Linked DNA regions of Homo sapiens: all the other regions are linked to region 3. The links come from fine-mapping of genetic effects on plasma protein levels. A gene starts in region 3. Each other region holds a variant in brackets. All regions are shown on one strand. Distances are between the middles of the regions.

Region 1 (8,000 bases), 83 kb after region 3:
GCAGCTTTCAAGACATTTTATACTAGGAGAGCTCAGAGCTAATGAGGGCAGATTTCCTAAGATCTATGACCAGAGGTCCTGATTTGAAAAAACTTTCTCCAGGTTTACGTTATCAAGAAATTGAAACAGCCAAGTTCCAAACAACAAACATCACTTACTTTGTCTCTACATTTGCCTTTTCTAATTGAATTTAGTGCGCTGCTGTATTTCCTCCCAGAAAGTGTATTGTTTTAAAATTACCATTTCAGTTCTATTACTCAAAGCCCTCGCTGCTAATGCTTTCTGACAGTTATCAACATAATGAGCCATAATGAAATGATGAGCAATCTTCGGTGGAAACCCAATGTCGATTCGACCGGTGCTGTGTGACTGTGTTGTGAAAATTTGAATGCAAATTAAAATAACATCGTCCTTACTTGTTTCCAAGGTCAGGAGAAGGGAGGGACTCTTTTCCTTTTTTATTTTTTTATTTTTTATTTTTTTAAGGGCTTTAATTTTGGGAATCTCACATCCATTTTCAAACAAGCTCTTGAAGGTGCCCCTGTTATTCTGTTCAATTCTCTACCCCAAAGATTTACATGCTTAGCAGTCTGGCTAAGGGATTTGGGGAGGGATGTCTAGAGCGAGGCTTTGATGTATAAACCATAGGATAAAATGCAGCCTTCAGTTTCAAGTAAACTATATATTTTTTTATCTACCCGAAAGCATATTTCTTTTTGCTTTAGAGCTGCAAGTAACTAATCATATAATGATGGGGGAGGCATACATTCTGTGAAATAGGTCAGTGAGGGTGCAGTTAGCTCTAGTGAAAGACTAGTTAGAAAAGTGAGAACAAAGGCCAAAGATTCCCAAAGTGTCGTAAATGAAAGTGTTTCAGAAGATTCATTGGTTGATCTCTAGCCATTTTATCATTCATGCAATCAATCATTTTCGTGAACATATTTTTATGAAAAATCTCAAATCCAAGTTTTCCAGGGGAATTTCTCATTCCATGTCATTTATCAAATTTGCAATGTAATAGTATAGTTTCATACTGCATTCCATTTGTCATAGGACAAAAACTCAGATTGAGACACCAACTCCTCCACTGCCAGATTACATAGTTGGTTTTTAGTTCAGAACATATGGTCCTGCTGCCTGTTAGTTGGTAAGCCAGCTAATGTGTCTGTCCCATGGACTGTACAAACTGATCAAAGCAACCAAAGACATTTGGACGATTCAGATGCAGCCGTCAACGTATGCTGCTGCTTCAGTTAGAGCTTAGTAGTTCAACATCTGATGTTAGCTAGTGAGTATACCACATTTTTGTTTCTTCCTTTCGGATTGCCTTTCAGCATTTTAGCTACTAAAAGGAAAAAGTACCTCTAGACAACCAAGTGGATGGTTTTTGTTTGAAGAAAATTAAAGATAAAGGGAGAAAGATCACCAGGTGAGCTTCAACGAAGGCACTAGATAGACCCCAGACTGATCATTTGCCATTTGGTTGTTTGCAAAATTTTAAGAGCCTCATGATATTTCATAAAGATCAGGTATCATCTCACTGAATTCTTTTTAAAAAAATGCTGTTTTAGCTTCCTCTTTTTTTTCCCCACATACTCCCCATTTTATAGTCATAAACAGCCCATTATGGATTCCACTGGAAAATGCAAAGATTCGAGGGACACTAATATATGCCCAAGTGGAAGGCTTGAATAATCTGCCAATGCCATTTAGCCAGGTTATTACAATTTTTCTACCACCCTGAATAATTAAGAGTGGCTTGTCATTGACCGAGTCCTGTCATTTCTGGATGCCATTTTTGACACTATGCATGGAAGTCATACAGTGGTTATTCACAGCATGCTTCTATGAAACAAGGTTAATTACACATTTTTCTGAGATCCCCTGGGGTGAGAACGGGGTATCTTCTTTTTTTCTTTTTTTAAGACAGAGTCTCACTCTGTCTCCCAGTGGTGCAATCTCAGCTCACTGCAACTTCCACCTCCCAGCTCAAGCAGTTCTCCCACCTCAGCCTCCCAGGGTGCTAGGATTACAGAAACGAGCCACCACACTCAGCCCAGGGTATCTTCTTTGCTATCAACATTTAGATTTATGAGAGATTCTGCTATAGAGATATAATTGCCCCTCGCCCTATTCCTATGATCTTCCACCTAGAAAAAGAACCTTTAATAGAAACTCCTAGCCACTCTCTTGCACAGAAGGTAGGAACAAGGCAGAAAAGATAATCCCCATGAAAATGATAAAAGAGGATCATCTGGGAAGTAGTACTAGCTAGCCATCATCATCATGAAGGGCAGGGAAGTGAGGTGAAATTGAACTCTGGGGTGAACTGAGAAAGTTGGAAACTTTCTATCCAATTCTCAAAAAGAATTTGTAATTATGGGTTATTATTTTCTTTATATTATTTGTATCTCTATGAAAGGGAAGCAGGGTTGTTTAGCCTTGGAGTCAGGGTTTCTGATCACAGCTTTGCGCATGTTGGCTGTCTTAATTTTGGCAATTTGCTTAACTTATCTTAGTTTTTGGCGATCAGATTGTTGTGAACAATAAATACTTTTCTGTCAGATTTGATTGCAGCTGTTAAATAAGATACAAAAAAGTGCTTTGCAAGGAAAGTAAATTAATGCACAGGCTAGATAATTTTAAAAATGAAATACTCAATTCTACTTTTCTTGGTCTTTGGCGTGGTAGCTTTCTTGTGTATAACTGAGAATTTATAAGGCACTTCAGCCATAAACAAGTCATCCTAATAAAAAGAAACCAAACCCCTAATTAACCCAGTAAAAAAAAGACAAAGATCACTGGAGAGGAGAATGGGAAAGGAGATAGAACCAGAAAAATAGGTTATGGGAAAGTCTCACAACAAGAAATGAACCTCTATAGGAAGCCAAGAATTTTTCATGACAGCAGCAAGTGATTGATGCATCCAAAAGGTTCTGGTTTAATCATGGACAGCCCTGCTTGGCTGTCTTTGTTGTAAAAACACATAAACCACCATGATAAGAGGTTATGCACTGTTCATATATGTCAGGAGGGATGTCTTTAAAACAGCCATCTTTATGTAAACTAACCCACAGCAGATAGGACTGGGAGAAAGCAATTAGTGGTGGCAACATATACAAATGTCAGGGGAAGCATGGGCTTTATTTCAGAGTCAAAACGTAATGCATCC[C/G]AACTGTTGACTCTTCCTTATAACCTGTCTTTCAGCTGGAGAGAGATTAACAACAAAGGCTTATCTGAAGGGTTGAAGGGTTTTACAGCTAAGACGCTGAAGTGCTATTGACAGTCCAAAAGTTGTACATGATTAATGAAGCCTTAGGAAATGGAACTACAGACCCAAGGTGCTGCTTCCTCCAAGATATGTGTTGGACTGGTTGCCTTAGCATTTTAGTGAGGTGACAGCAGTGCTTAAATACATCGATCATGGGAGAGTTACCTTTCTGCCCATGCTCTTGGGGGATGCTCCATTTCCCATCCAGAATGAATTTCATAGCCCAGGCATTGAATTTTAAAATGGCGATTAAAAATCAGTTAAGTATTAGATGTCTGTGATAGCTCTGGAAACTACTCTATCACATGAGACCAGAGACTTTGGTTTTTCTATCAACTGTCTTCTTGCCTTGGTTGCAGACTTGATTTTCTTTCTTTCTTTTCTTTTTTTTTTTTTACATTTTAGCATGTGATTGCCATTTTTTCTCTCTTTATTATTATTATTATTATTTTGCTTAGCTTTTGTGACATACAAAAGTGCTATGGCAGTGGGTTTTTTTTTTTTTTTTTGAGACAGGGTCTCAATTCATCACTCAGGCTAGAGTACAGTGGCATGATCCCAGCTTATTGCAACCTCCACCTGCCAGGTTCAAGCAATCCTCCCACCTCAGCTTCCCAAGTAGCTGGGACTACAGGAACATGCCACTACACCTGGCTAATTTTTATAATTTTTGCAGGGACAGGGTTTCACCATGTTTCCCAGGCTGATCTTGAACTCTTAGGCTTGTCAAGCCTTCCACCTACCATGGCCTCCCAAAGTTCTGGGATTACAGTCATGAGCCACTGTGCTCAGCCATAGTGCTATGGTAGTGATGCTTCTGATTAGTGAGCTGGACTGGGCTAAAGCATCATCATTCATTCATTTGTTCATTTAGCAGATATTTATTGAGTTTCTACCAGATGTCAGGCATTACTCTGAAGGCTGTAGATATTCTCATAAACCTGAAAAAGAGAAGATTCCTTTTCTCCTGGAGCTTATGTTCTAATGGGAATATAAACAAACAAATGAATAAGATAATTGAAGGTTCTCCTAAGAAGGAAATTTTTAAAAATGTGATGCAATTGGGTGCATTGGGACAGGGAAAGGGAGGATTTCAGTTTGTATGGAGTAGTCAGGAATGAGAACTATTCCAGGGATAAGAAGTCAGTCAGTCAAAGGGCCGGGAGTGAGAATTCCAAGCAGAACTACCAGCTCCAAGGTATTTTGAGTTGCATGTGCAAAATTTTGCTAACAATGTGAGTTTTAAAGTTGACTTACTTTTTTCCACAGTTTTGCATTCTGTTGGCACTTTAATTCCAGTCGTTACGAGAAATAGAACTTTTAGGTTTATATGGCACGTTACACCGTATATCCACATATATTTAAGCCCTTTGGCAGAACCCATTTCTGCCAAACCCATTTCAAAACGCAATTATCATAGCAGGTTTTCATCTTTTACTGAAGTTTCAGTTGCTTCCTGTAAGAATAAAGAAATGCATTTTCTCTGACTTTGGGTGTGAGGTAGAGTACATAGGGTACCTGGACTTTCCATGGAATGGTTTATACCAAACTTATAGACACACTGGAGACATTTCTGACTTTAGGTTTAGTGTTGGCTGACGGCTTTTAAATGACATTATTAAGGCTCACACAGATTTCATGTGGATATGTAAATACTGGCTTGTCCTAAAGGGGCTACTTTAAATCTTGACATAAGCCAGCAACTGTGTTCTCTAAACTACTCAAGAATTAAATTTTAGTCTAATCCATGGGAGGAAAGAATTAAGATATGTGGAATTACTGGAATTTTCTTTTATGCTTGGAATATTGCCGTTCTTAAATGTCACATTGACAGTATGTGGTTCATTTCCAGAAGCTTGTTTTTTTCCCCAGAGAAGAGCACATGGTTGGTAAAGGAAGATCAAGATTCCTTTTATAATACAACATGATATGATGTGATATTTTATAATATGATATGATAGCCCTTTGTATCTACTATCATGTGGCTATAGTTTCTTTGGGGCTTAATGCTGTCAAACTCCTGTCAACTGAATGTGAGGTGACATCCCACTAGAAAATAATAATTACCCATTGTAGCACCTTTCTCTGGTACTTGCTGTGTGATGCAGAAAGTATTTCACACCAGTGAAGTGAATGGATGTTCATTAAATGTATCTATAATGGCAAGAAATTCAGTGCCCGTTTCTTTCAGAGCAATGAGAAACTCAAGAAATAAGCCATATGTCTCATTTTATTCCCTCCTTAGTCAATAAAGGTAGGTCTAACTTGGACTTTAGCAGCCAGAGTTGTCACCTGGGCTATATACATAGGTTAATCAGGGGTTCCTGGACTGAGCTTTTTAGATAGGCTTTTTAGTTCCTGGAATTACATGCAGAATTCTGAGGGTGCCAGAGAGCATCTTCCTAAAAAGAAGATGCCTTGCTTTCATCATATTTTCAATAGCACGAAATGGTCTGAAGGTCAATTTTAACGGCCACCTATTTTTGCAAATAAGTTTTCTTGGAGCACAGCCATGATCATTTGTTAAGGTATTGTCTATGGCTTCTTTGGAGATAGAATTACAGAGTTGAGTAGTTGCTGCAGGGAGCAGATGGCCCATAAAGCCTAAAATATTTATTTTCTGGCCAGATCATAAAATTTCTTTACAGAGAAATTATGCCGGCCCCTGTGCAAAAGATTTATAAACTAAAGATTATTGCATTTGACTTCTATTTCTGGGATTACCATTAATATCTGGGCCACTAAGTTATATTACAAATGTAAAGGGCATACTAAATATGAAAACTTTAAAATAGTTGAACATGCTATTTTCATTTTTGGGTGCAGGCACAGAGAGAATCCTGGGCTTATATGTGAATTTCATGGGAAATTTACAAATACAACCAAAAACGTGAAGGAAGGGTGTTTATGTTCCCTTAAATACACCTCAGCATTTGATTAATTTATATGAGGTTGGTACAAAAGTAGTTGCCATTAAAAGTAATGACAAAAACCACCATTACTTTTGTACCAATCTAATATTTTAGAATGTCTTGATTTGGGTGAAAAAATTAAAATTAAAGGCAAAAGCTGTTGTTCCATAAAGACTAATATGGAAAATACCTGTCTACCTTTAGAAATGTTAAAATTAAGCTTCTTCAGAGATAAAGTTTTCCCCAGAGATAAAGCTTTCATGTCTGAGTAAATCACCTCCTGAAATCAAGGTGGAGGAAGAAAAGTGTAATAACCAATCCCAATTTGATAAAACCTTATTTGATAGAACCCACATTTCAAATTCCCAGCCGTCGCTGGTTACACAGCTGTAAAAACAGGACAAGGCAGGTGCTTGCTCTGACATCCACTGCACATATAATCCCTATTTAGTTTCCTTGAGTCTCTGCCTTTTTCCCTAGGTTCCCTATCCATTCCTGCAACTATCTAGGCAACTATCAGGAAGTTATCAAAATGAATAAGAATATTTTTCCTCTCTCCTCTAAAGCAGGTGATAAACACTAGATACACCATAAATGTTTTTTGAATAAATGAATGATTCACAATCTCTCCCAGCAGAAGTAACCACTAATATTTTATATATAGCCCTTTCTACTTTTTCCAAAGTAATTCTAAACCATGAAAAAAAGAGGCAATTGAAACAAACTAGTTACACTGAGTTACTACTTCACAGGTATAAAGCTAATGAATCTGTATGTGAAAAGTTGACTAGTACAGCTTTGGCTCGGAGAAGGCTGCATAGTTCACACACTTCATAACACTGGGTATAAGATGCATTAAAGGACTTCATTAGTTTTTAATTCATTCATTCATTGACTTATCAAACATTTTTTGAAATTTCTGAACGAGGAACCATGGTAGAAAACAGGAAGTGATAAAGACATCAATTATTATTATTATTATTATTATTATTATTATTATTATTATTTTGAGACAGAGTCTCACTCTGTTACCCAGGCTGGAGTGCAATGGCGCGATCTCAGCTCACTGCAACCTCCGCCTCCCAGGTTCAAGAGATTCTCCTGCCTCAGCCTCCCAAGTAGCTGGGACTACAGACGTGTGCCAGCACACCTGGCTAATTTTTTTTTATGTATTTTTAGTAGAGACGGGGGTTTCACCATATTGGCCAGGCTGGTCTTAAACTCCTGACCTCAGGTGATCCACTTTGGCCTCCCAAAGTGCTGGGATTATAGGCGTGAGCCACTGTGCCCGGCCAAGACATCAATTCTTGAGGAGCACATATACTGGTGATAGAAACAGACATGGAATGGTGTCTAAGTAGCAAGACACCATTATATGTTACAAACAAAGCAGGAAAGGAAATAAGGAACTGAAATGTCAAACAATGACATAAGCATAAGGACTGGTGTTATGCCAGTCCTGTATTGAGGCTAGTAGTGGGTAGTTTTGAAAACAAAATCTTGCCATTCACAATGACCCTCAAGCTACCCGATGGGTGTATGTACTCAGTAGGTCGATTCAGATGTGGAGACTAGAAAATTAGAACAAGTACAACAGTTAGCCCTTTTTTGTTATAAACCTCATATTTGTAATTGGAGACTTACTCGCAGGTGGACATATTTCTGATGACAAAGGCAATCACTCTGTCAGAAATTTAATTGCTTCTAAATAGCCAGACACAATACTTACATAAATGAAAGAGAAAATAATCGGAGTTAGGTTTTTTACTTCTGGATGCCTTGTATTTATTAAAAGAGAGCTCAGATTACTCAGAATA
Region 2 (8,000 bases), 47 kb after region 3:
AAATGTAGGGGAAAAACAAAAGTTGTTTGCTTTGTGTCTAAAAGTTCCATGGTGTCACACCTAGAAACCCTCGGTGTTGGAGACTGGTGCTTCATACTCCATTGTCAGCAACTTTGCAGAAAGTGTTGTACTAAAGCTACTACAGTGAGCAAGCTTATGCCCTTCAGCGTTGTCTCAAATTTTGTTTTTAAGTCCAGGCGTAAAGATAACATGTGATAATGACCTCTCCATTTATTTGGAGTCACAGATTTGATACTGGAGGATCTCAAAGCATTAGGTCAAAATAATTAGCTCTGTCTGTAGAATAATCAACTCCCTCTCTGCCTGGATGCAACAGATTTGTAACCTTGTTTTAAAAGCTAGGCGTTTCCATTGGTACAAGTCAGCGTGTTTAGGTGTGGAGAGAGTTGGCAGCCTGCAGGGAGGGGTGGCTGTTTCCCAGAAGTCACAATTCCTGGTGGAGAGAGGAAGCTGTCTACTCAGTTTCCCTCCTGTGCTTTGTGAATGGTGACCGCCCCTTCTCCCAGCCTCTCCAGCCTTCCTCAAGGTGGGGCAAAATCAGCCCCCTGCAGCAAAGTCCCTTTCCTTCCTTCCTGTGGAGACCTGGAATTTTTCAGTGCTTTCACTACTGAACATTTCTGAAATCTTTTTTTTTCTGATGTCAAGCAACAGTGTCATGTATGTAAATTATAGAAAATTTAGAAAGAATAGACTATTGCAGTAAAGGAAACCATGCACAATCCTCTTACTCATGGAAAACATCTATTACTATATTGTATGTACTCTTGGAGTGGTTTTTAAAATTTTTCTTTAAAACTTTTTTTGGCATATACGTAGTTTTTTGTTGTTGTTGTTGTTGTTTTGTTTTGTTTTAATGATCCATGCATTTGATGTATTTGAGACCTGTAAATGCCACTTTGATCTTTATCTGGTTGTGTTAGAGAGTATGTCGGACAGAGGATAAGAGCATGCCTTTAGTTGTGTGGGCCATTTATTTATTTGAAATCTGGAATGTAGCCTATTTGGTGATGGCACAGGAGGGCATGGAACCCAGAAGCCAAGGCTAAAAAATGTATAGAAGTGGCATCAGAGGATGGGGAAATGGTGTCAGGGAAGCAGCACAGGACCTAGAATCAGAAAAGCCAGTTTCTGCTCCTGCTGGCTGGGTAATCTCCCTGAAACTCAGTTTCCTAATCTGGGAAAAAGGAGAACTCCTACCTTACCAGTTGTATTGATGATTCAGTTAATTAAATGAGGTACTGTTTAGGAAAATGCTTTCTAAACAAGCACTGCAAGACTCAGATAATAATATTATAATGAAAAAGTTGTTCAGACTTGGCTGTGGTGATTCAAAGGGAATAAGATTAAGGTGAGCAGTTGGTGGCTGGGATTTATAGTCTTATGTCCATGAGCAGAGAAAACGTTGAATTGGCTGCTCGAATTTTGTTGTTATTGCTGTTGCTGATGCATCTAATGGTTAATATACACTTCCTGTTTAAATGGTTACCGAGCCTGGATTATTACTAGGGAGGCAGCGTAGCAAGGCTAGTATTTGCTATTTTATGCTGGTCACCCTGTCTTCTTGAGTCTGTGTATTTTTTACTCAATGAGTACATTCTCCCACAATGCTAATATGTTTGCTCTTTCACCTAAGAGACGCTTATCAGACTTTTACTATGGATTACAGGCCTTTGTATCAGGAATCTTGCTGCATTTACACAAGAGAGAATGAGACAGGCATAACTCTATGTTTTAAACAACAGATAAGGTTTGTCTGCTGTGTGCACAGAGAAGGAAGGGGAGGGGAAACGGCGGGGTTGGGGGTGGTTAGGTAGGGGTGGGGCCTGGGAAAGATGTATAAACACTTTTAACTTGTGAAAGAATGTCTTTGTCTCTGCTCATGAGCCTCAGAAATTGGCGAAATATTAAAAGGAGGGGTTTGCAGGGCAGCTTGTGAGCTCTGGAGTCAGATTGCCTTGGACTCCACCCTGCTCCGACAGTTCCTTAGCCATGTGACAGATAAGTTCCCTCATCTCTTTGTTCCTCAATTTCCTCTTCTGTAAAATGGTAATAATAATACAATGAACCTCATCGGGCTATTGTGAGATAAATATAAACCGCTGATATCTTCAGAACTGATCCAGGCCAATGTTATGTTGAATCCTTAAGAAGGATTTGAGAAGGTGGCCCTGAGGAAGCACAGACACACGCTCTTGCCCCATTGTCTGTAACTGCCCAGTGTCGGGCAGACCCCGGTGGACCTCCCCGGTTGCTGGGGCTGGGGCCTCCATACTCAGCTGTAAATGACCAGGTGACAATGAGAGTGGACTCTCAGTGGGCCTCACCACAGGAGCCTCTGTCATATGGGGCTGAATCATTGTCCTGTATCTGGAGATTGTGAAGGTCTGTCCAGGGCATCTTTTGAGGAACTGTATCTATTTCAGCTACCTCTTTAGTTTTCTATTTCTCTTTTTCTCTCCCCTTCTTCTTAATATTTTCTGATGAGAGACTCGGCAGGTGAATATGTGCACGTGGACATTAATCAGAGGCACTTGTCATTCTGAAGAGGCCTCAAGAGCCGAACAGGGTTATTAATAAGAATCCTCTAAACCAAGAGAACATGGAGCATGTTGAATTTATCCAATTTCCACAACGTTCTAGTTTATTCCTATGTTGTTGTAAGGACAAAGTAGTAGATTCAGATTCTTTTTTTTCCTTTAGACAGAGTCTCACTCTGTTGCCCAGGATGGAGTGCAGTGGCGCGATCTCGGCTCACTGCAAGCTCCGCCCGGGTTCACGCCATTCTCCTGCCTTAGCCTCCTGAGTAGCTGGGACTACAGGTGCCTACCACCACGCCCGGCTTAATTTTTTTTTTGTATTTTTAGTAGAGACGGGGGTAGATTCAGATTTTAATACTGCTCATTTTAAACGTGTTTGTGTGTCAATTTTTTTTTTTTTTTTTTTTTTTTTTTTTTTTTTTTTTTTTTTTGAGGCCGAGTCTGGCTATATTGCCCAGGCTGGAATGCAATGGCGCGATCTCGATCTCGGCCCACTGCAACCTCTGCCTCCCGGGTTCGAGCAATTCTCCTGCCTCAGCCTCCCGAGTAGCTGGGATTATAGGCCCTCGCCACTGCGCCTGGCTAATTTTTGTATTTCTAGTAGAGAGCGGGTTTCACCAAGTTGGCTAGGCTGGTCTGGAACTCCTGACCTCAAGAGACCCGCCCACCTCGGCCTCCCAAAGTGCTGGGATTACAGGCGTGAACCGCTGCACCCAGCCATGAATTTTTTTTTTTTTTTTTACACTAGATTGTGTTGTTTCCTGAGCACACAGGAGAAAGGTGGAGACCTTTGAGACGTGTATATCAGGCTCATGACCTTCGAGGGACACATGTATCCTGCCTGCAACCTTCGAGGCACACGTGTATTGTGGCTGTGACCTGGAATTACACTGCCTTACTTCAAATCCTGACACTGTCACTTATTAGCCAAATTTACTCAAGCAACTGCTTAACTGTATATGCCCCAGTTTCCGTAGCTTAAAATGGGGATAATGTGTTTCCTTATTCATAAGTGTCTTATATATTTAGTATGATTATGTATATAAAGTGCCGGAATTACACTGCCTTGCTTCAAATCCTGACACTGTCACTTATTAGCCATATTTACTCAAGCAACTGCTTAACTGTATATGCCCCAGTTTCCTTAGCTTAAAATGGGAATAATGTGTTTCCTTATTCATAAGAGTGTCTTATATATTTAGTATGATTATGTATATAAAGTGCTGAGCCATAATTCTTCAATAAATATTAGTTATAATTATTTTTGAAATGTGATAAACCTCAATTGGACTCCTGCTTTGGCTATGTAACCAGTTGGACCTTTGCTAAACCTCAATTTTTTTTATCTAGAAAATAAAATGGGAAACACAGTATCTAATAGAGAGTTATAAAAGAATTATACATTATTTCTATCACTCTGGAGACACAGTCCCTAAAAGTACTTGGTAGACCCTTTCCTATCCTCCCAGCTTCTTTTCTTGGCAACGTTTTATTTTTTTTCAGAGAATCTCAGTTCTTCCCTGTAAGGGATATAGGCTCCAACTTTGTTTCCTGGAGAGGACTCAGGTAGTGGTGTATTGAGTGCTGGTGCCAAGTACTTTGTGGGCAGTTTCTTATTATTATTCCTCACTTAATATCAACCCCATTTTGCTGAGGAAGCCACAGCTGAGAGTTAAGAGCCACATCTCGCCTGCTCTCTCAAGTGGCAGCAACATCATTCAATGTGTTTGTCTGACTGTCGAGCCTGTGTCTAACCACTGAGTCGTTCGTCCTCCATCAGATCAAACCTGGGAAAGGCGTGACAGTGAGCATCCTCACTGCCGGAACTAATGGCACGGAATCAAGGACATATCTCTCTCTCTTTCCCTCATCTTTTTTAACCGAAAGGAAATTTACGGAGCATATGGTAACTCGTTTTCCTCCACAGCTCTACTATCCAGACCACGAGTCAGAAAATTAACCTTTTAACTTAATCTACATGTTGTGCATTGAGTCTCACGCCTGTTTTCATCTGCCTAAATGGGGAGTTCCA[C/T]GCAGCGTGATGGGTGTCCTCTCTGTGCTCACATTGCCGGGGACAGATGATTTGCAGCTGCTCTGTCCTGAGGCCATTGTGAACACTGAGGTCCCTGACAGGTTGGTCTAGTCTGCATCGTCAATTTTTATCACATTCTTTTATGAAATAGAAATTTCTATCATGGGCATGTAATTTGGTGAGCATTGCAAATAGTAAACTCTTTCAAAAGGCTATAAAATTACATATTTATAGATTTATAAAAATTGCCTCTTTTTTTCTCTCTCCAGCACTCCTTCCAGGTAAATAAGACAATAGGATACTTTTGAGAACTTAGGAGTTATAAAAATATAATTGTTACTTGGAAAACTTCATTTTAAATCTCTGAATTGGGAAACACATACCTTAAGTATGAGCATGTCCATTTTAATTCATGAGCAGTAGCCGTGCCGTAGCCATCACATCAAGCTTTTGGGTGCTAATAAGCATCAATTGTGTGGCAACTAATCCAGCTGGTGTTTAGTAATGTAAATGGAGACGTGAGATGTTTTTATATGTTGTATCTTCCCAGGTTAAGTCAAGCCGTTAAAGCATATTTGCACCTTATGTAGATGATTAAGCATTTGGTAAATTCTGAAAGGTCACTAAGTACAATGTACTTCCTTGTCTTCCCCAATTTGCCTTTTCATTTGACATAGGCTTTGTTAGGAAATTACAGCCGCTTTTCCCAGGTGACATTCATCCCCATGTAACACTGATTGTAAGTCTAACTAGGTGGGTTCTAATGACTTCTACTAAGATGTAACATGGACCAACCACTGCCTACATCCTCATTCTCATTCTCATTTCAGCAAAAAGTCCTGAAAAGATAGGCAAACACTGGAGGAACCATAGAGACGTGTCATTTACCACTTTCCCTCTTGACTGTATATAGGTGATTATGCTTTCTCAAGTTTCACTTGTTCTTTCTTTTACCCCGAAGCCTAGCATTAAAGGGTGCTCAGGCAGTACCTGATGGGTTGGATACTGGTGCTAAGAAGTGGAGTTAGCATCCGGCAGGAGAGGAGGCAGCACACGGACGTGGCTGGACATCTTTGCTCTGGAGTTTTCTCTTGGCATCTGACTTCTGCTCCGCTACTTCATGAACTTTGCATTGCCCTCTGCAAGTCCAGCATGATTTGGGTGCCTCAGTTTTCTCCATTGGAATATATGTCATTTTTTTCCTCTCCTTCAGAACGTTTCTCACCACAAGGCATTTTATATATATATTTGTTTTGCTTTGTTTGTTTCTTTCCACTCCCCTCTTTTTCCATCAATTTAACAAAAGGGGTTTGAATTTATCCCAGCACCTAGGACATACCAGGTGCTCAAAAAATATTCTACTGAGGGCCGGGCACGGTGGCTCATGCCTGTAATCCCAGCACTTTGGGAGGCTGTCATTTGAGTTCAGGAGTTTGAGACCAGCCTGACCAACATGATGAAACCTTGTCTCTCTTAAAAATGCAAAAAATATTAGCCAGGCATGGTGGCACACGTCTGTAATCTCAGCTACCCAGAAGGCTGAAGCAGGAGAATTTCTGGAACCTCAGAGATGGAGGTTGCAGTGAGCCGGGATCACACCACTGCACTCCAGCCTGGGTGACAGAGGGAGGCTCTGTCTCAAAAAAAGTTACTAAAAAATATTCTGGCCAGGCACGGTGGCTCATGCTTGTAATCTCAACAATTTGGGAGGCCGACATGGGCAGATCACCTGAGGTTGGGAGTTCAAGACCAGCCTGACCAACATGGAGAAACCCCATCTCTACTAAAAATACAAAATTAGCTGGGCGTGGTGGCACATGCTTGTAATCCCAGCTACTCGGGAGGCTGAGGCAGGAGAATTGCTTGAACTTGGGAGGCGGAGGTTGTGGTGAGCCGAGATCGTGCCATTGCACTCCAGCCTGGGCAACAAGAGGGAAACTGCGTCTCAAAAAAAAAAAATTATTGACTAAATATATTAGTTAGCCAATTAAAAATAGCCCCTACTTCTTAGCGTTGTTGGGGGTATCAAAGGAATTAATGAAAGTGCACATAGAGAGCCCCAGTAACTACTTGCTATTCTTATTACCCAACTGATCGCCAGTGTTCTCTTTTGTAAGTGAGGAAGGTATATTGGAAGTACTGGGGTTTTCAAATGCTGCATAAGGACAGACAGTTTAAAAAAATCTTTTGGCTGGGCGTGGTGGCTCACACCTGTAATCCCAGCACTTTGGGAGGCCGACGCAGGCGGATCACCTGAGGTCAGGAATTCGAGACCAATTCGAGACCAGCCTGGCGAACATGGTGAAACCCCGTCAAAAATTAGGTGGATGGTGGCACGCACCTGTAATCCCAGCTACTCATGAGGCTGAGGCAAAAGAATCACTTGAACCTGGGAGGCAGAGGTTGGGTTGCAGTGAGCCGAGATTGCACCACTGCACTCCAGCCTGGGCAACTGAGGGAGACTCCGTCTCAAAAAAATAATAATAATAATAATAATAATAATAATAATAATAATAGGATTTTATTTTTATTGTTGCCTTTGATTTATGGCAAGTTGCTTTTGACATATCAAGAACATAATTGAACTCTCAGAAGGTAAAACTCATAAAAATGAAGCATAAGTAAATGAAGTGTGGGAAACCTTGTTTGAAACACATTTTGGGGTGAGAGTGGGAATTTATTAGGTAAGCCAGTTCGGTTTCAGAGACACCAGTTTCACTTAGTGTTCAAATCCCTGTAATAATGAGTGGTGTCGTGTCAAGAATCTGTTACCGTATATCATTTATAGGTTGGTCATTGAACAGGTGTTTTTAGCTAAGTTTTGATTAATTGTGCCTTTATGCACTGGACCAATCCTACAGCTTAACTTCGTCTTTGTCACTTCCCTGTGCAGTTCTCAAAGAATTCAAACGTGTGATATTGACAATCCAAGACTCTTTTTCCAAGCCTCATTTTCCTTGATACCCTATCTGATGGCTGGAAATTCTGCTTTCTCTTGGGTTTCTTCATGCACCTTCCCCGTTCTTCAACGATGAATGTAGCATTATCTGTAACACTGGGCCTCAAATTTATCTGGTGCCTCACATGTATGGGCATAACTGGCAATGTCTATATCAAGGGAAAATGGTGAGAATTAAATGAGAATGCATATTTGAAGTGCCTGGCCTAGTCCCAGGCAGTGCTCAGTAAATGCTAGTTCCCTTTTGCTCTGTATTTCCGGCCTATTTTGGGTTTTTTGTTTATTTGTTTTTTTGTTTGTTTGTTTTTAATTTATTGAGATGGAGTCTTGCTCTGTCACCCAGGCTGGAATGCAGTGGCACAATCTTGGCTCACTGCAACGTCTGCCACCTGGGTTCAAGCGATTCTCATGCCTCAGCCTCCCGAGTAGCTGGGACTACAGGCGTGTGCCA
Region 3 (10,340 bases):
AGGACACATTGTCTCTGCAAAATGTTCCTGAGAGGGATCTAGAGTTATTACAGAACTGAACTGAGCATCTTGGCACATGCCTTCTCTGTCTCTCCTCCTCCTTCTTGGGCCCCTGGTGGTGGAAAGGTCCCTGATGGTTTCTGGCCCCCACAACCCTGTGCGGTGGATATCACATATGGTCATGACTAGGAAGAAATCTCTTTATTTATTGTTTTTTTTTGAGACGGAGTCTCACTCTGTCGCTAGGTTGGAGGGCGGTGGCTCGATCTTGGCTCACTGCAATCTCCGCCTCCCGAGTTCAAGCGATTCTCCTGCCTCAGCCTCCCAAGTAGCTGGGATTACAGGCGCCCGCCACCTTGCCCAGCTAATTTTTGTATTTTTAGTAGAGACGGGGTCTCACCATGTTGGCCAGGATGGTCTTGATCTCCTGACCTCTTCCTCATGTGGGATTTGGTACATTGTAGACACTGAAGAAATGTTTGTTAGAACCGAGTAAAATTCACGGACGGCATCAAATGAAGTTTTAGAAAAGCCTTGCTCCCTTGAGAACTGCAACCTTCCTGTCTGCCCCTCCTCACCTCAGTGATGCAAAAGAGATTATTATTCTAAGTGAAGTAACTCAGGAATGGAACACCAAACATCCTAAGTTCTCACTGATATGTGGGAACTAAGCTATGAGGATGCAAAGGCATAAGAATAATACAGTGGACTTTGGGGACTTGGGGGGAAGATGGGAGGGGGCAAAGGATAAAAGACAACAAATACGGTGCAATGTATACTGCTCGGGTGATGGGGGCACCACGATCTCACAAATCTCCACTGAAGAACTTACTCATGTAGCTAAATACCACCTATACCCCAACAACTTATTAAAAAAATGAAACAAACAAACAAAAAAAGGCCTCTTGCTTTGTCTTGCTCTCTCATCCTCTTGATGCATGAAGACCTGAGCTCTGCAGCCATTTTTTTTCCCACTCAGGTGTAAAGGGCTCATAAGTGTCCTGCTTCTTATTTGCATAACAAACAGCATCAAAGCCTTGACATCAAAGGATGAACTCTGCAGTTAGGTTTCCTGGGGGCTTCCGGAAGCCCACCAATTGTTGTGTCAAATTTGTATATTTAAGATGCAGTAGCTTGTGGTAGAAGCGTTTTCTAACAACGGTGGGAATTTCATTAGGTAGAGCTTTGGTTATTCATTACCACTTGGTTGTGGGACTCTGGATTCCTCACACCTTCTTTCACGTATTTTTTACACTATTCTATTTGAAGACAAGCATAGCCTCTAGGTCCAAATCCAGTGGAATTACCTAGGAATATAAAAGTTGGATGTCAGCTGTCATAAATCAACAATAAAAGAAGAGAAGAATTTAGAATTTATTTCCCTTCCCTACTCTAGGAGTTAATAAAATAAAGCATCTTATTTTCTCATGGAGCACGAAAGGTAAATCACAGTGCTTGGTTTCCTTCTGGAAGGAACAATTCAAGCTGAACAAATGATTTCTCATTTCAAAATGTGAATGCTTATTAATTAAATATTATTTTACAGAAACAATAGCCAGGCATGGTGGCTCATGACTATAATCCCAGCATTTTAGGAGGATGAGGCAGGAGGATTGCTTGAGCCCAGGATTTTGAGACCAGCCTGGGCAACATGGTGAAACCCCATCTTTACTAAAAATACAAAAAATTAGCCAGGTGTGGTGGCACACATCTGTAGTTCTAGGTATCCAGGAGGCTGAGGTGAGAGTATCACGTGAGCCTGGGGAGGGTGAGGCTGTGGTGAGCCATGATCACACCACTGCAATCCAGCCTGGGTGACCTGAGTGAGACCCTGTCTCATAAAATAAAAATAAAAATAAAAATGAGTAATAACAGCTGGCTAACACACGCCAGGTACTATACCAGAAGCTCTATAACATTCATTCAGTATTTAGAAGAACCATATAATGTTAACTATCTACAATTTGTAGATGAGAAAACCATATCTCAGAGAGGTCAAGGAACTTAAAGACACACAGCTAGAAAAAGCCCAGCTAAAGTATCAAATTGGGGTTGTCTGAATTGAAAGTTCTGGTTCTCTAAAAGAGAACTCAGGGAGTCATTGGAGCACTATGGGCAGGTTCCATTTTTTTCACAAAAAATCCACCAGGATGCCTAGAAAAAGCAGAGTGGATTCATCTTCTTATTCTCTCTGTCTCTCCAGTCTTTCATACACCCTCCTTATCATTATTTGTCTACGGGTCAAAGGCTCCTTTCTCTTTACTTTGGTGAAATTGGCCCTCCACATACAGGTGGAAACCCCGGGATGCTTGGTGCTATTTACAAACGTCTTTTACGGATTAAAAACACCTTTGGAATTCAATCTTAATTCAATTCAGCATTTACAAGGTACTTCGTAGCTCAAACGTTTGTGGTAGGCACTGTATAAAAAAAAGTATATCATTGTTTTCAGATTATTCAATTACTATTTTCATTAAGTGTGTAAGCAGATATGTTTTGACATGTTTCTTAGTGTATTCAAAATAACCCCAAATTTTTACTGTAGTAAGACTTGTCTTACTCAAGAGTAAAGCAATTTTATTTTAAAATTAGGTGATTTTAGGTACTTTTTTAAAGGTATGATATTCCATTGTATCCTTATGACTCCGTTGATGTGTTGTAAACAGTCTCCAACATTTGAAAACTCCAGGTTGTCTTCCCATAATGTGGGTGGTTTTCTGCATTGATGGTGGCCTTTGTCCACCATCATTTTTAAAATTTTGCCTTACTCTTCAAGGAATCATATCTGCTAGGTTAGAACACCTTTGTTCTAGGTAGTCACAATGGACAGAGGAATTTTCAGCAGCTCATTTCTGTTCTGCAACCCAGAAATGATTTAAAGAGGAAGTTATAGTTCAGTTTTTCCAAGTTAGCATTTCCTGCTTCTTGGTTCTCCTGATTATCGGGCTGCCTTGGGTCCTGAACTAAAACATAGGAAGAAAAAAGGGAAAGTCAGTGAATGTACTCTAGCAAATGATGCCTTGCTTTCAGGCAGCTGTGTCTGGAAAGACTTTGTTTAATATTCAATGTGCATATCCTGGGGAAAAAAATGGTACATGTTTTAGAAATTTTACTGTTTATAACAATGCAGGCAGTCAGTTTCCCGTTTCAAACACAGATAGATACATGCAACACTCAAGATCCTGCAGAGAGGCAGCCAGCATCTATTGTTTAAAAAGGTTTCAAAAAGAATTCGGATTGCTCTTTTCTCTTTTGAATCTGTGTGCCAAATGACAGGGACCAATATTCGTCTTCTTTTTCTGTAAAACTCAGAAAGACACATGAAAGAACCCAGAAATGCATTTCTTAAAGGGATTTAGTGCAGTTATTTTAAATAATTTATGCACGCACACACACATACATATATCCCCCGAGTACATATTTTTTCCCTTTTTACTTGTGTGCAATCAGTAGCTACAATGACTGAAATCCACTTCTTTGGACTGTGACATTTAAGCAAATCTTGTATCTAGAAACCGAAATGCCCAGAGTCTCGCACAAGCTGTTCGTCTGGGCCACCAACTCACACAGCCGCCGCCCAGCGCCTCGGCACGCGTGCTCATCTTGTGTAAAAGTAAAAGTTGCTCATGTCATTAGCTCGGCTCTGAGTTTGCATGAGAAACCAGCGCAGCTCTCGAGCCACGGGAGAAAACACGATCTGCTGCGGAGCCCAGTGACCTGAAACTGTAGCAGTGACTCGAGACCTGTCCTCTCCTCGACGTCGCCCTATAACCCTCCCGCTTTATTTAGGATCCGCTTTTCCGAGAGCAGCCACTCAGGCAACCCCCGGAAGGTTTGTTAGGAGTTTCTCCTTGAAACGCTTTCCGATTCCATCTTTTGAAATCCAGCAGGCGAGAGTCACGACAGACTCCAGGACCTCTTGAGCGCTGTCCGCAGCCCCACGGTAGGAGTAGCCCTAGTGCACGAGACTTGGCGGTGGCTGAAAAGCTCGCCCAAACGCACGCACCACCTCTCTGCGGGGTTGCGGATTGCGGGTTGCGGTCTTTGTCCGCTCGCCCTTCCTCCGGGGCCGCACACTCCCGCATCTGGCCGGCAGGTGGCGCGGTTGGCTCACGATGAGCTGCGGCCGGGGCTGGAGAGGCTCCTCCACCTCCCAGCGGCCGCCCGGCCGCCGGGACCCAGGCTCCCCAGGAAAACTCGGCCCTGCTCTGGAGGGAGTCAGAGGAGGGGCGGCCTGGGAAGGGGAAGGGAGGCCTCATTGCTAGGAATCAGTGCCCCTGCCAGCGCCTGGGGAAATGCACCGAGTGGCGTTGGGGACCGGTCCCTGGGACACCGGCTGCGCTGCCTTCGCCGGACCGCTCTTAGGTGGCCGCGTCCACGGCTCGGGCATCGGGAAAAGACCACAGCCCGATGGTGCCAGTGCCCCCGGGGCCGGAGCAGCCGGGCGGGGCTCTGCGGGTCCTCCTGCTCGCCGTCTTCTCCCGGGGCAGGGAGGGCTGCCCCGGCTAGGTCGGAGCGGAGAGTCGCAGCAGCCGCTCCGGGCAGCTTCCCAGTCCCGGTCTGCCTTGTCTGTGCGGCTGCAAGTCCCCGCACCCACACTTAAGCCTTTCACTTCTACCCCACCGCTCCCAGACGGGCTAGGCCCGGTTCCAGGGACTGCCCCCAACCCTGCCCCCGGGAAATCCACAACTGGTTCCCTGCCCAAGGCCATCTCGGGGCGTCCTGGGCCCTGGGCGAGGTCCACGGCGTGTGCAGGGGGACGGGGCCAGCGGGGACTTCCTTACTGCTAGAAAGTCATTCGTTCAGTCTCTGGAGACAGTGACGGAGCCCTGCTGCGGACTGGACGTTGGGGACCAAGTAGGTCCCCGCTCTCCAGGCATCTGGGGAGCCAGGGAAGAAGCGAGTGATAGAGCCACAAAACTCCCCGCAAAGAGTATTTCAGAGGGGGAAGCGCCATAAAGACAAAACAGGGCAAGGTGGCAGAGGGTGGCGGTGGCAGGCGCGAGTCTGCAGCTCAGCCCGGGCGCGCTGGACGCAGACACGTCGACTCTCCTAAAGAAGCAACCGCAGGTCAGCTTAGACTTCTTTTATTTCAATAAAAGAGCGTTTTCCTCCATCTTAAACCGCCCGTGGTGGGAGAAAAGGTTTCCAACCTCTTCTCTGGCTCCCCTCGGTCAATTCCGAGCTTTTCCAAAGTCCCTCCGCCGTCCAGGGGCTCGACCTTCGAGGTAACGTGGGGGATCCCGCTGGCTCCCTCCGGCAGGCGGGGGCGGGGACCGGCCGTGCTCGCCCCCTAGAGCCCCGGGAGACCGCGCGCCCCGTGGAGCCCGGAGGGGGCGGAACCCTGGGGCGGGCCCTGCTCGGTGAAGGCGGGGCTCGGCCGCCCTGTCTGCGCCGCCATTGGCCGCGGGCCCCGGACTGGCGGGCTCACGTCACCGGCCGGGCCCGCCCCCTTGGCAATGTCTTCAGCCCGCTGCTCTCCTAACTTAAGCATTTATTCCACTGGGATAGAAGCGGCAGGAGCAGCGTTGGCACCGGCGAACCATGGCTGGGATTTTCTATTTCGCCCTATTTTCGTGTCTCTTCGGGATTTGCGACGCTGTCACAGGTTCCAGGGTATACCCCGCGAATGAAGGTAAGAGCGGGACGGCCTTTCTGTGGTCGGGGACAGCGAGGGGCCATCGCGGGTGAGGGGTCCTCAGGAGCGCAGGGCCAGGTGGTGCGGGGGGAGCCCAGTGTGAATGGTGCGTCCCGATTCGGGAGAAGGGGGCTGAGGCGAGGGGATCGGCGAAGGGGCAGCGGGGAACCGCCGGACAGCCTGCCCCGAGGCGGTGACCCGTGCACGCGGCGGGTCTGTCCAAGTTTGTAACCAAAGGCCAAAGTTTATCAGCATCCGCCAGAGAGGCCCGCTCGAGGCGCCCTGAGGGGATGCACGGGAGACAACGCCGGGATTTAAAAAAAAAATTACAAGAACCACGTCCTCTCCTGAGCCAGCCCGGGGCGAGGGGAAAACGCAGCCTGGAGCACAGTGAAGGCTTGGTGCTCCCGGATTCTAGCGAAAGCCTTTCGAGCTCTGGTTTCTGCAAAGTTTCCCGAGCCCTGCGCTTCTCGGGACCGGGCTGCGGGGCCTGCTCCGCAGCGCAGCGGTCGTGGCGCCGCTCGTCAGGCGCCAGTGACCTGATTTCTAGCACCCGGAGTCAGACACCTTTCTCCTCGCCAAGCCCAGCGCCCCGAGGGTGCGATTGCGGGCCTGAGGGGCCCGAGCTCTTCGCCCCGCAGACTTGGGGAACCCGCCGGCAAGTTGAACGCAGTCGAGTTTTAGCTTTTCGCCCCAGAATTGCACACAGTTTAGAGCTAACGTGCGGGGTCGACGGGACCCGTCTGGGTGCTCAGTTTTCTGTGCATCCGTTCGGACGTGCTGGGAGGATTGTATGTGCCTGTGTGTCTGTGTCGGGAGGTGGGGCGGGGCGGGGGGGCGGTGATCATTTAGTTTCTGAGAAACCCAGGGAGAGGCGAACTGTGTGTGTGTGTGTGTGTATGTGTGGTGTGTGTGTGCATGTCTGCGTGTGTGTGCATGTCTGCATGTGTGGTGTGTGTGCATGTCTGCGTGTGTGTGCATGTCTGCGTGTGTGTGCCTGTGTGTGTGCGCGCGCGTGCAACTGCGTGTATGTAGGTGCGCGAATGCCTGCGTGGAAGCGGACGCGGAGGATTGTATGTCTGTGCGCAGATGTCCTGAGTGTGTGCGCGTGTGTTCGAGTGTATGCTCGTGCTCTGTTCCAGCGTATGCTGGTGCTCTGGCCTGCGTGCATCTAGTCTCACATCCGTCTCTCATTCTTCTCCTTTCCGGCATCCATCTATCTATCCGTCCGTCCATCCGTCTATCTATCCATCCATGCATCCATCCATCTCTCCGTGCATCCGTCCGTCCGTCCATGCATCCATCCATAATGCATCCATCCATATATCTGTCCGTCCGTCCGTCCATCCATCCCTCCATCCATCCACCCATTCATCTATCCATCCATCCACCCATCCATCCATCCATTCATCTTTCCATCTCTCCAGACATCCGTCCATCCATCCCTGTGTAATCTATCGTTTTCTCTGTTCCGAAGGAGGGAGCCAAAAACCAACTTAGCCTTGGCTGGGCAGCCGGTACCCGGAGCCCTCCAGACGGAGGCTCTGAGAGATTTATACACCTGCCCACAGACATCGCTTGGGAGGAAAGGGGCCCTCTCTCGCCCTCTGGATCTCCCATCTCCTTCCGACGTGGCTTCTGGTGGTTCTGGTGCCATCTCGGCCGTCGCCGCCCCTCGGTCCCTAGGGTTATTCATTCCCCTGAGAGGAATCGTGGATCCCGCGTTCTCCTGGCCACTTCACACACTTGTTAGGACGTCCCCTGAGACCTCTCTCGCCCCAGATGTAGAGACTGTTTTCTTTCTTTTTTTTAAACCCCCTCTTTTTTTGGGGGGGGGGGAGAAAAACTTGGGAGCCCAAGACAAAAAGGCTCTGAGAGCCCTAGGCTAATGTTGAAGGGGAGGGAGGGAGGTCTGTTCCCCTCCCCTCCCCCACCTCCCCCTTAAAAATTAATTCACTTTGTTGCTTTCTATTCCCATCACGTTTCCTTTTCTCTCTTTTACCCTCCCTTTCTACTCCCTCCTTTTTTTGTAAATTGGGTCTTATTGTTTCCTTTGTGTCCCTAATCCACCTTACATAAATCCAAATGGATGTAGCGGGCTTTTCTCTAGGGACAGAGAGAAGAGAATGGTTGCGGTGGGGGTTGGCGGTGGGGAGAGGAGAGGAGGGAAGGGGGCGGGAACTCCAGGCGGGAGCGACCCAGGGAAGGCTCTACATTTTAAAATCATTAACAGACCCCAGGAATTCAGACTCCCCGGGAAAAGTAGGGGAAAGAGACTGATTTTTAACTCCATTGACTTTGAGGTGAAATGAGAGGGAAAGTGGGCAGAATCCAGGGGTCTGGGGGTAAGCTTGAGTGTTGGGGTGCGCATGAGCACGGATGGCGGCTTCCCATTCCCACCCCTCCCCCAGCCTGAAGAGCCAGCCTGGCTGATCAAATTAATAACCCAGTGGTTCCTTTGAGGTGGGCCTTTCGACCCCCAGGACTGCAGATCTCGGTGGGAAAGAGAGGTTTTGAATTCATTGCGTCCCTTTGGATGTTCCCCTTACCTAGCGCTCTTCTAGCCTGAGCGGGGTACCGCAGCTCGGTGGGCTGTCCTCCCTTCCCCCCAAGCTTTGACGCACTCAGGTGTAGCACAAGCACACTAAAGCCGTTAGGCAGCACTCCATACCTAAAATTCAAGCCAGTGATTTCCTACGGGTGGAAGACGAGTCTCTGATTGTCCCCCAACACATCTTGAGAAAGAGAGAATACTTTCGGTACGTTTGCATTCTGATTCTGCACGTCTGGCATTCCCTCTTTCTGAAACTTTGATATTTAAAAAAGCAGCGGATACCATATTCAGGGACTATTTACTTGGTTGTGGAAGGGAAAATGTTAGGGAGAGCCTTTTCCTGACCCTTTGGATAGGATACTCTCTGATAGAAGAGAGAATTCACTTGTGGCTCTGTCACCCTGATGAGTTATGTGGTCATCTGAAACTTGCAAAAACAAATAATTCTAGTAGATACCAGACAGAGATGAATGCAGATTTTGCTCTGGAGTGTAACTGCTCTACATAGATGTATTTATCTTTTTGAATTGTACTTCAGATTCTCTATTCATCCTTTTTAGAAAAATGAATCAAGTGAGTCCTAGGATGGAATTTTAAATGTTAAGCAAGTTGAATAAATAAGAACCTGCAGATTTAAAGAGGGGGAGAAGATCAAATGAGTAATGATTATTTACATAAGTGAGCCCAAGTTTAGGTTTTGATCAGTGTTGGATATGCACAGCCTCAGCACATATGGAAACGCTCAGGCAAATGGTTTTTGTGTTATTGGCTTTTTGCAATTGGAAATTCATCTATTTTTCTTTTGTTTTTTGCAGTTACCTTATTGGATTCCAGATCTGTTCAGGGAGAACTTGGGTGGATAGCAAGCCCTCTGGAAGGAGGGGTAAGTCCTGAGTTGCTCTCTGATCCAAAGGGTAAAAAAGGAGTGATTAGCAACTTTCTGAGAGTCCTAATGGCTTGATTCTTGTTGATTGTGGTGAGGGGGTCAGATTTCCGCTGTGGCCTATGAAGTGAATTACGCTTTGTTGGAGAAATCCTATACTCCCTTTGGATAACTCTGTCATGGAAGAACTAGAAACCAAAAGGGCAGAAAGGGGTTTCAAAATTAGGAGACTGGTGGAGGCACAGACTTAGATGCCTATTTAAAACTAAAATACCAACAGGAAATATGATCCGGGGACCAAATTAGAATTTATGCCTATTACTGTGATGGCCATGAAGTCCTGACAAGGTTAATTTAAGAGCAATTGTCCTGCTTCCAGATGAAAAAAAAAGAATAAATAAAGATATGAGAGAGAAGACATTTCTAATTGTACCTGCATGAACTGCAGGAAGGCTCTGTACCTTGCTCTCACTCTTAAATCAGCTGCTGTTCTTTTGCACACTGAGAGACAGTCATGTGAACTTGTGTCCAAAAAACCCTAAGCCTGTGTATTAATGGTGCTAAATATGAAAAGTTTATGTGTCTGTAATCTTGAAGAATCTTTGGGGATTGAGTAGTCTGGATTATAAGGTCTGAAAAAAGCATCACTTCATTTATTCTCAAATTTGTAATACTTGTCATTACTGCCTCCATCTTACTAGGTCAACGGCCACATTCTCCTACTCCCCCTAAATAACCAGTCAGAATGAATCAGCTTTGGAAAGAAAACAGTACAACATGTAACTGACTTCTGCCAAACTGAAATAACTCTCAAATCCTTTTAAAATTAAACAAATCATCCTACCTTCACAGGCTTGATAGTTTATGGCTGAGTCCATTGATTAAAAACAATGGGGGTGAAAGATTAGGAGTTTTTACTAGGCAAAAATTGTAATGCTAGAACCTGGCGTGGGCTCCACACCGGTCCATTGAATAAAGAATGAAGGATTTTAAATTAAAGATTCATAGAGTCTGCTATCAAGGACATATTTCAGAACTAAGACTAAGCAAGAAAATAATCATGAAAATGGAGAATTTTAGGCTGTCTTGTTGCAAACAGATTTTGTAATCCACCTGAAATAAAACAGATTGCCCTGTCTTCCTATTTTTTCTGCCTGAACTTGACTGCCATTGGTTTGTTCTCTCCTGAAAAATTCCAGTCTGCCCTTAAAACCATCTTTTTAAAGGAGGGAGGAGTGATTGGCAGGCCTCTGGCAGTGTAGACA

Alleles and levels. Alleles are on the strand shown, and positions count from the first base shown. The strength of an association depends on the size of the effect and on how common the allele is. Not every link is listed here.
With allele T in place of C in region 2, the plasma level of the protein whose gene starts at base 5,489 in region 3 is higher (moderate association).

What was found. A credible set is the group of variants that fine-mapping cannot tell apart. PIP is the posterior inclusion probability: the model's chance that the variant is causal. The UK Biobank Pharma Proteomics Project read protein levels with antibody pairs (Olink). The fine-mapping took linkage between variants from a reference panel, not from the people measured, so its PIPs are less certain.
Region 1: its variant is the best candidate, but not a certain one, in a credible set for the plasma level of the EPHA4 protein (UK Biobank, PIP 0.71).
Region 2: its variant is the best candidate, but not a certain one, in a credible set for the plasma level of the EPHA4 protein (UK Biobank, PIP 0.61).

The regions. Positions count from the first base shown.
Region 1 is chr2:221,485,926-221,493,925 of GRCh38, reverse strand. The region is part of intron 4 of EPHA4 (EPH receptor A4); the gene reads left to right. Among named protein-coding and RNA genes, the nearest start is that of EPHA4, 82 kb to the left of the region's middle. The variant C/G (reference allele first, on the strand shown) is at 3,173.
Region 2 is chr2:221,521,842-221,529,841 of GRCh38, reverse strand. All of the region lies in intron 3 of EPHA4 (EPH receptor A4), which reads left to right. Among named protein-coding and RNA genes, the nearest start is that of EPHA4, 46 kb to the left of the region's middle. RefSeq lists an enhancer at 2,226-2,726. The variant C/T (reference allele first, on the strand shown) is at 4,591.
Region 3 is chr2:221,567,453-221,577,792 of GRCh38, reverse strand. EPHA4 (EPH receptor A4) reads left to right here and starts at 5,489. Exons shown (of 18, transcript NM_004438.5): 1 at 5,489-5,635; 2 at 9,008-9,075. The coding sequence starts at 5,545. RefSeq lists an enhancer at 808-1,320 and silencers at 4,024-4,183, 4,234-4,513, 5,114-5,533.